3 linked regions of the Homo sapiens genome follow. The protein of the gene in region 2 purifies or fractionates together with the protein of the main gene of each other region. This does not show direct contact. Each region holds a gene or a part of one and is shown on either strand. Other genes may lie near its edges. The genes, in order: SCAPER, CCNA2 and PHF8.

Region 1 (3,658 bases), on a different chromosome or scaffold from region 2:
GACCAGCCTGGCTAACATGGTGAAACCCCGTTTCTACTAAAAAATACAAAAAATTAGCCAGGCGTGGTGGCAAGCGCCTGTAGTCCCAGCTACTCGGGAGGCTGAGGCAGGAGAATGGCGTGAACCTGGGAGGTGGAGCTTGCAGTGAGCCAAGACTGCACTACTGCACTCTGGCCTGGGGGACACAGTGAGACTCTGTCTCAAAAAAAAAAAAAAAAAAAAAGAGAGTGAAAGAAAAAAACAACCCCATCAAAAAGTGGGCAAAGGATATGAACAGACATTTCTCAAAAGAAGACATTTGTGCAGCCAACAGACACATGAAAAAATTTTCATCATCCTGCTCATCAGAGAAATGCAAATCAAAACCACATAAGATACCATCTCACACCAGTTAGAACGGCGATCATTAAAAAGTCAGGAAACAACAGATGCTGGAGAGGATGTGGAGAAATAGGAATGCTTTTACACTGTTGGTGGGAGTGTAAATTAGTTCAACTATTGTGGAAGACTTGGTGGGAGTGTAAATTAGTTCAACTATTGTGGAAGACAGTGTGGTGATTCCTTAAGGATCTAGAACTAGAAATACCATTTGACCCAGCGATCCCATTACTGGGCATATACCCAAAGGATTATAAATCATTCTACGATAAAGACACACGCACACGTATGTTTATTGCAGCACTATTCACAATAGTAAAGACTTGGAACCAACCCAAATGTCCATCAATGATAGACTGGATTAAGAAAATGTGGCACATATATACCAGGGAATACTATGCAGCCATAAAAAAGGATGAGTTCATGTCCTTTGCAGGGACATGGATGAAGCTGGAAACCATCATTCTAAGCAAACTATCACAAGGACAGAAAACCAAACACCACATGTTCTGACTCATAGGTGGGAGTTGAACAATGAGAACACATGGACACAGGGCGGGGAACATCACATACCTGGGCTGGTCAGGGGGTGGGGGGCTGGGGGAGGGATAGCATTAGGAAAAATACCTAAAGTAAATGACGAGTTGATGGGTGCAGCAAACCAACATGGCACATGTATACCTATGTAACAAACCTGTACATTGTGCACATGTACCCTAGAATTTAAAGTATAATTTTAAAAAAAAAAGAAAGAAAAGAAAAAACAGTTGTCTCATCACTACAGGAATTCTCTGTAACTCTCCACTTGGGAACTAAACAATAAGGTGCTTATCACCTTATCACCCTTGGTTTGTCAAAACAAAACAAAAAGTATTCTTAACACCTCTAAGAATACACTAATATCCACATTAAAGCAGAATTTATTTTCTTTCAAGTATGCAAATTTGACCCTCAAAATAACCAAAAGGGTTTATGACTCTGCAAGTTTATATATGTGATGAAAATAAAAATAATGAGGTCAGAATTTTTAATTATTTCATGCTTATTTAAGGATGAGAGTTTTCCTCTTTTAAAATTTGATTCTCACAGAATCAAACTGAAAAATATACAATTTGATATACAACTGCTAAAACAAAATAAATGACCAAATTCCACCCCATACAATAAACTCACTACTTATTTGAGCATAATTATGTTCAACATTTAGAAATGTTCATTACTAAAAGACACAAGATGAAAATCAATTGTTCTACCTTATTAAAAGAATCTAAACATTTGTTTTTTGTATTACTATAACCTTTTCCTTTTTACCCTTAAACAACCAATATCAAGTTTCATCTCTACTGTTATTATCCCTATAAAATGTATAATTTTACCTAATACCATGTGTTGTTAAGATCTGTCAGCATTAGGCATTAAATTTTAGAAGAAATTATAGTCCACAGCAGCCTTTAAAAAGTAAAAATTAAGTAATTTTTCACAGCTTTTTATATGTGCCTATTTCTTTGGAAAGCTAGTTTTTAAACAAAGTTAGCATGATTTATTCTGGATTATCCCCAGGTCAAGTATCCTAATACTAAAATGAGCAAAAGGAAGAGATGGGTAGAAATATGTTATCATCCAAAACCATAAATCTATAAATAATCACAAATCAATGCATTTTTAGAGATTCTGGAATAGGGATGGTAAATAAATTTCATCTTAAAGACCAACTCCAAGCAAATGATAGTGGCTGTCTAAAGTACTCTGTTAAGAAAGTTTTTAAAACTAAGTCTAGCAGACACCATTTCCCATCTATCAGAATGCTAGATGTAGCATAGAAGACTTTATTGTTACTAGTTTAGATTCTTAATTCTGGGCTAAGAGCATTTGATCAAATCACATACAAACCAAATGATTTTGAACAAGTCACTTAACTCTCACAATCTCACTTTCTTCCTCTAAAAAATAAGAATCTTAACTATATCAAAAGTTTACCAAAATAATAAAATGTTAAAATGAAATAAATATATAAAAATGCTTTAAAAAGTATAAATCATACAAGTTATTATTATTGGGGTTTATGCTTCTTAAATATACTCAGAATTCTGATAAGTTGTTCTTACCAAGTTAGCAGCACTCACATTTGAAATATCTGAAGGGTCCATTTCATTTTCTATCCTTGCTTTCTCTGCTGGAAATTTTTCTTCATTTACTTGTAAAGGAGGTGTACCAGCTTGCAGCATAACTGAAACACACTCTGTATCAATGTGGACAGCAGATATTTCAGAAGTTCGAACATAATTGTCTCGAATACTGCCAGAATTCTTCACATCATCCAATGTACTCACTGTGAACTAACAAAACGTAGAGAATGAATCAGAGATAATTAAAAAATACCAACTATTCCACTTTAGAAGAAGAGATGATTTTGCTTAACCTATTAACTATGAAGAAGAAGAGGTACTTGACTGGATGACAGAAAATTTACTCATCTTTTTTGTATGTTTCAAGTGTAACAAAAGGACAGGGACCATTAAGCACAAATTTTACTTGCATGCCTACTATGTACTGGGCACTATCCAAAGTTTTCTAAGAAATTAAGCAATTTATATTGTAATTTTCTTGTAGTAGGCCAATTTGTGATGAGTATTTTGTATCCTTCGCAAATGAAATCTAGTCACAAGTATGAGGCATTCATTCACTGTATTATACTCATACAACCAAAAGTATTTACATGGTCTTTTGCAAAGACTGTCTAATATCAAATGAGGACATTCAGTACTTTTGAAAAAATCCTGAAACCAATTTTTACAACAATATATTTGGAGGGCATTTTACACAAAAATATAAAACTTATTCTCTTCAGATAATATTAACATGATCTCAAAGTATCTTTGTTAAAAATTCATATGGTACATGAACCCAATTCTCCGATCTGAAAGAGAAAAGCATGACCTAAGGGTGAAGATTGAAAGCATGTAGTGTCTCATTATGACATTCATACACTTTAGATTTAGATATCTTCCCTATTGTCCTTTAGGAATATTTAATAACAAACCAACAGAAATGTAAATACAATATAAAAAGCAAACAGTGGCTTAGGCTAAATACATACCCATTTTTTAAAAACCTTCCAATTTAGCAGAGTCAAGCCTTTATTTTTACTTTGGACAGAGAAGAGAAACAATAGTACTGTGTTTTCCAATGATACTCTAAGTCAAAGAACTAAAATCTAAAATTATGAATTTAAAACTCCCATCACTTCTTAAATAAACATTAGATAAATGCTGCAGTGGCC
Region 2 (2,628 bases):
TTCCCTGCCAGCAACAGGTCAGATGCTTTTAAAAAAGCTCACCTTTCAATCCAAGTTACAACTAAGCTTACTACCTAACAAACACTGTTCAACAGGTAACATGCCTTAAACAGTATATAATCATCCCTCAGTGTACATGAGGGATTGGTTCCAGGACCCTTCCCAAATATACCCAAATCTGTACATATTCAAGTCCTGCAGTCACCCTTCCATATATATGGGTTGTGAATCCCCTGAATACTGTAGTTTCAGTCCACATTTGATTGGAAAAAAATCCATGTGTAAGTGGACTCACACAGTTCAAACCTGTGTTTTTCAAAGGTCAACTATATATATTTGAAGTTTTTCCAAGTAAGAACATCTAGGCAACCCTCAGTTTTGTAGGACAATTATTATTTAATCTGGCACAGGCATTTCAGTCACAAGATAGGTGTGTGAAGACCGTAATACATACCCAGCTTTGTCCCGTGACTGTGTAGAGTGCTAAATGAAAGGCAGCTCCAGCAATAACTGATGGCAAATACTTGAGGTATGGGTCAGCATCTATCAAACTTAATTCTCCCAAAAACTGGAATAAAAAATACTTTATGATCACAAGAGCGTTTAGAATTCAAATGTCAAACCTCTGCCTTCTAACCTAATTTTTTCCTGCCTTTGATAACGGCTCTGTAGCAACTCTAGAAAAAATATCTCACAGCCTCATCTTTAAACATATCAATCATTTTAGTGTTTTGTTCCATCCTCATCCTGTATTTTCCCTCCTTTATTAACTTTTAAAAAACAACTCTTCTGACTACCCATCCCCAAGATGTCATCCTTAGACCTCTGCTTCTAGTGCTTTCCTGATATAGATTATCTTTTGCCAGCAGTAGGCTTTCTTCCATACTGCAGCATTAATCTCCCTCTGAATACTAAATCTCTTCACCACTGCTGTACAAAGGAACTAGGTTCCTTTACAAAGGAATTAGGGCTTACCCCTAATTATTACCAAAGAATCACCATTCAACAAAATGAAAGTTAACTCACCATTGCTAAACTTTCAACTTTGCAGTTTGCAGGCTGCTGATGCAGAAAGTATTGGGTAAGAAACTGATTTACTGTTGGAGCAGCTAAGTCAAAAGTAAGGACTTTCAAAACTAGATGCTCCATTCTCAGAACTTGTTTCTTGGTGTAGGTATCATCTGTAATGTACACAAACTCTGCTACTTCTGGGGGGTATATTTCTTCAAACTTTCTACAATGAAAAAAGTTTTAAGTAATCAGTCCTAAAAGAGAAGCAAGCTTCCTTATCCCAGTTCTGAAATCCCATTAGCAGAATATGGAATGAATCCAAAATCCACACCAACTGCATTTCCAGACACTTGATCATCATTTCTAGTAGAGACTGGATAGCTAATTGCTAATTAAAAGGCCCAAATCAATAAAGGACTTTTGAGATATTTTCCCCAGTTCAGTCAAAGGAAGTAAATGAAAGGCATGAGACTTCTCGAGATGGGAACAATGCCAGAGTTCACCAAGTAGCTGAAAATTTAGGAAATACAAGTCTTAGGAAAACATGTTTCATGTTTTCATTTTTAAATTTAGTTTTTCTTTCTTTTTTTTTTTTTTTTTTGAGACAAGAGTCTTGCTCTGTCGCCCAGGCCAGAGTGCAGTGGTGCAATCTTAGCTCGCTGCAACTTCCACCTCCTGGGTTCAAGCGATTCTCTTGCCTCAGCCTCCCTAGTAGCTGAGATTACAGGCATGCATCACCATGCCCAGCTAATTTTTGTATTTTTAGTAGAGACAGGGTTTCGCCATGATGGCCAGGCTGGTCTCAAACTCCTGACCTCAAGTGATCCGCCCACCTCGGCCTCCCAAAGTGCTGGGATTACAGGCGCGAGCCACCGCACCCAGCCTTTACTTCTTAATAAAAGAGACACTGCTTATATGCCAGAAAGTAATATTGGAAGGAAAATGTTTTAAAATTTGTAACCTAGTGTACTATATCATGTTCAAGGAATCCAGTTGGGGGAAAATTAGTGTTCTAGATTAGAACAGTTTCATCCTCCTCCACTGCCCTAAGCCCCAGCACATTGCCATCCCTAAAGTAGTCACTGACTCTGCCTGGTGTATGTTAAAAGGTCACCATTAAAAAAATCAATTTCTTCCCTAGACAAAAGGTCGTGATCACTTTTAAACAAACCAAGGTAGACTTACGAGGCTAACAGCATAGCAGCAGTGCCCACAAGCTGAAGTTTTCCTCTCAGCACTGACATGGAAGACAGGAACCTATCAATGTAGTTCACAGCCAAATGCAGGGTCTCATTCTGTAGTTTATATTCTTCTCCTACTTCAACTAACCAGTCCACGAGGATAGCTCTCATACTGTTAGTGATGTCTGGCTGTTTCTTCATGTAACCCACTTTAGGTTTACATTTAACCTATTGAGAAAATTATTTATAGTGTTAAAATTATTCTAGTGTAAAAACTGCAATTAGATTATTTTACCATTAATTACGAGAGGCTACATGCTATAAACTTAACTGTAGCATTAGAATAATTCATTAGTTTAAAAATTTAAACATTATCCTCTCAATTTCATTTAGCCACATTTAACAAATACATTATACAAACTGGATTCAGAGAACC
Region 3 (3,658 bases), on a different chromosome or scaffold from region 2:
TGACAGAGGCTCTCTCATCAGAAACCATGGAGGGCAAAAGGAAGTAGCAGAACAGTTTTCAAGCGCTGAGATAAAAGAACTAGAAACCCAGAGTTCGATATGAAGTGAAAAGATCCCCTAAGAATTCAAGGGAAATCAAGATATTCTCAGATTAAGGAAAACTAAACGTATCTGTTGCCAACACTTATCCTAAAAGAATGAGTAGGCTGGGCACAGTAGCTCATGCCTGTAATCCCAGCACTTTGGGAGGCCGAGACGTGTGGATCATTTGAGGTCAGGAGTTCAAGACCAGCCTGGCCAAGATGGTGAAACCCCGTTTCTACTAAAAATACAAAAAATTAGCTGGGCGTGGTGGCGGGCGCCTGTAATTCCAGCTACTCTGGAGGCTGAGGCAGAGAATTGTTTAAACCTGGAGGGGCGGAGGTTGCAGTGAGCCGAGATCACGCCACTGCACTCCAGCCTGGGCGACAGAGCGAGACTTCGTCTCAAAAAAAAAAAAAAAAAAAAAAAAAATCAGCCAGGCATAGTGGTGCATGCCTGTAGTCCCAGCTACTGGGGGGTGGGGGGCTGAGGTGGGAGGATCACTTGAGCCCAGGAGGTTTAGGCTGCAGGTGAGCCGTGACTGTTCCACTACACTCCAGCCTGGGCAACACAGCAAGACTCTGTCTCAACAACAACAAAACGATTAATTAGATTATAAACAAAAGAGCATTAAGGCATATAAAGAAAAGTAAAGTTTCAACCGGACATGGTGGCTCACGCTTGTAATCCCAGCACTTTGGGAGGCTGAGGCGGGCAGATCATGAGGTCAGGAGTTCGAGACCAACCTGGTCAACATAGTGAAAACTCGTCTCTACTAAAAATACAAAAATTAGCCGGCTATGGTGGACCACACCTGTAGTCCCAGCTACTCGGGAGGCTAAGGTGGGAGAATCGCTTGAACCCAGGAGGCAGAGGTTGCAGTGAGCCGAGACCACATCATTGCACTCCAGCCTGGGTGACAGAGTGAGACTCTGTCTCAAAAAAAAAAAGGAAAAAGAAAAGTAAAGTTTCTACTCTTCAATCAAACTGGTAAAATGTCAAGAGCAGTTGCTTATGGTAAGTTATATGTATAATGTAATACCTAGAGCAAGTACTGAAAAAAGCAATACAGAGATAACTCGGGCCAAGAGCAGTAGTTCATGCCTGTAATCCCAGCACTTTGGGAGGCTGAGGTGGGAGGATCATCTGAAGCCAGAAGTCCAAGACCATCCCAGGCAACAAAGGGAGGTACCACCAACCTACACCCACACCCTCCCCACACAAAAAATTTTAAAAATTAGGGCACACAGTGGCACATGCTTGCAGTTTCAGCTATTGTAGAGGCTGAAGCATGAGGAGATTGCTTAAGCCCTGGAATTTGAGGCTGCAGTAAACCATGATCAAACCACTGCACTCCAGCCCAGGTGACATAGAGACCCTGTCTCAAAAATAAATGAATGAATGAATGAGTAGGCCGAGTGCAGTGGCTCACACCTGTAATCCCAGCACTTTGGGAGGCCGAGGCAGGCGGATCACCTGAAGTCAGAAGTTCAAGACCAGCCTGACGAACATGGAGAAACCCCGTCTCTACTAAAAATACAAAATTAGCTGGGCGTGGTGGCACATGCCTGTAGTCCCAGCTATTCAGGAGGCTGAGGCAGAAGAATCGCTTGAACCTGGGAGCCGGAGGTTGCGGTGAGCCAAATCGCGCTCCAGCCTGGGCAACAAGAGCGAAACTCCATCTCAAAAAAAAAAAAAAAAAAGAAAAGAAAAAAGAAAAAATCAGCAAGGATTAGAAGAATTCAGCAACACCATTAACCAACAGTAGTTAATTGACATTTATAGAACACTCTACCCAAAAATGGCAGAATACACATTCTTTTCGAGTGATCATGAAACATTTACCAAGATAGACTCTGGGCTATAAAACAAATCTCAATAAATGTAAAGGAATTGAAATCATACAAAGTATATTCTCTGACCACTATCAAACTAGAAGTCAGTAACAGAACGATAACAGGAAACTCTACAAAAACTTCAAAATTAAACAACATACTTCTATACTTCATGGGTCAAACAGGAAGTTTCAAGGGGAATTTAAAAATGCCTTGAGGCAGCAGGAGGATCACTTTAGCCCAGGAGCTGGAGGCTGCAGTGAGAGCTATGATCCTGCCTCTGCAGTACCGCCTGGGCAACAGACTGAGACACTGTCTCAAAAAAAAAAAAAAAAAAAAAAAAAAAAACTTTTTTTTTTTTTAATGCCTTGAACTACATGAAAAGGGAAAATGTAACATATTAAAATCTATTGGTGCTGAGAAGAAACTTAACAGCTAAAGGCTTACATTAGAAAAGAAAGAAAGGCCGGGTGCTGTGGGTCACGCCTGTAATCCCAACACTTTGGGAGGCCGAGGCGGGTGGATCACCTGAGGTCAGGAGTTCGAGACTAGCCTGGCCAACATGGTGAAACCCCATCTCTATTAAAAATACAAAAAATTAGCTGGGCGTGGTGGCGAGCGCCTATAATCCCAGCTAGTAGGGAGGCTGAGGCAGGAAAATCACTTGAACCCGGGAGGTGGAGGTTGCAGCGAGCCGAGATCGCGCCATTGCACTCCAGCCTGGGCAACAGGCTGTTTCAGAAAAAATAAAAAAAAAAAAAAAAAGAAAAGAAAGTCTCAAATCAATAATCTAATCTCCCACCTCAAGAAACTAGATAGAGAGCAAAATAAACCAAAGGAGGAAAAAAATAGTAAAGGCAGAGATCTATTAAATTGAAAACAGAAAGACAACAGAAAAAGTCAATGAAACAAAAAGCTTGTTCTTTGAAAAGATCCATAAAACTGACAAACCTCTAGCAAGTCTGACAAATACGAAGACAAATTTTTTTTGTTTGTTTGTTTTCGGTTTTTTTGAGACAGGGTCTCGCTCTGTCACCCAGGCTGGAGTGTAGTGGCATGATCACAGTTCACTGAGGCCTCAACTTCCTGGGCTCAAGCAATCCTCCCACCTCAGCCTCCCGGGCAGCTGGGACTATAAGCATGTGCCACCCACCCTGCTAATTTTTGTATTTCTTGTAGAGACGGGGTTTTACCATGTTGCCCAGGCTGGTTTTGAACTCTTGGGCTTAAGCAATCCACCAGCCTTGGCCTCCCAAAGTGCTGGGATTATAGGCATGAATGACATCACATGCCCAGCCTGATACATTTTTAGTATCACTAATGAAACAAAATTATCACTACAGCACCTGAAGATATCAAAAGGATAATAAAGAAATACTATGAACAATTCTACAAACATAAATTTGACAACTTAGATGAAATGGGTCAATTCTCGGAAAGTACACATCCAACATAAAATAGGTAATTTGAATAGTCCTATAACTACTAAATGGAATAATTTTTAAAACTCCCCCAAAAGATAAAGATAATTAGGCGAAGTGGTTAGCATAGTGAGTGGAACACTAGCTTGTGCTCAATAAACGATAGCTATAACCATTTTATTTAAATCATCACAACCTCTCAGGGAAACTAAGGCTTCACAGATAAGAAATTATTTGCTAATATGTAACAGAATCAGAATTTGAACCCAGATCTGAAATCAGTGTCCTTTCCTCTAGAGTTAAAAATCCACACCAAAGTTA

Evidence for each region.
Region 1: the proteins of CCNA2 (region 2) and SCAPER purify together in Homo sapiens (affinity purification with mass spectrometry; 5 studies listed by BioGRID and IntAct, with this or other methods). This does not show direct contact.
Region 3: the proteins of CCNA2 (region 2) and PHF8 purify together in Homo sapiens (affinity purification with mass spectrometry; 5 studies listed by BioGRID and IntAct, with this or other methods). This does not show direct contact.

Annotation. Positions count from the first base shown.
Region 1 is NC_000015.10:76,769,241-76,772,898, forward strand, and holds part of SCAPER (S phase cyclin A-associated protein in the endoplasmic reticulum), read right to left. Parts: intron 2,715-3,658; coding exon 2,502-2,714; coding exon of another isoform or gene 2,484-2,501; intron 1-2,483. UniProt on the Homo sapiens protein: CCNA2/CDK2 regulatory protein that transiently maintains CCNA2 in the cytoplasm.
Region 2 is NC_000004.12:121,818,346-121,820,973, forward strand, and holds part of CCNA2 (cyclin-A2), read right to left. Parts: intron 2,421-2,628; coding exon 2,197-2,420; intron 1,235-2,196; coding exon 1,027-1,234; intron 569-1,026; coding exon 455-568; intron 1-454. UniProt on the Homo sapiens protein: Cyclin which controls both the G1/S and the G2/M transition phases of the cell cycle. Functions through the formation of specific serine/threonine protein kinase holoenzyme complexes with the cyclin-dependent protein kinases CDK1 or CDK2.
Region 3 is NC_000023.11:54,034,337-54,037,994, forward strand, and holds part of PHF8 (histone lysine demethylase PHF8), read right to left. Parts: intron 1-3,658. UniProt on the Homo sapiens protein: Histone lysine demethylase with selectivity for the di- and monomethyl states that plays a key role cell cycle progression, rDNA transcription and brain development.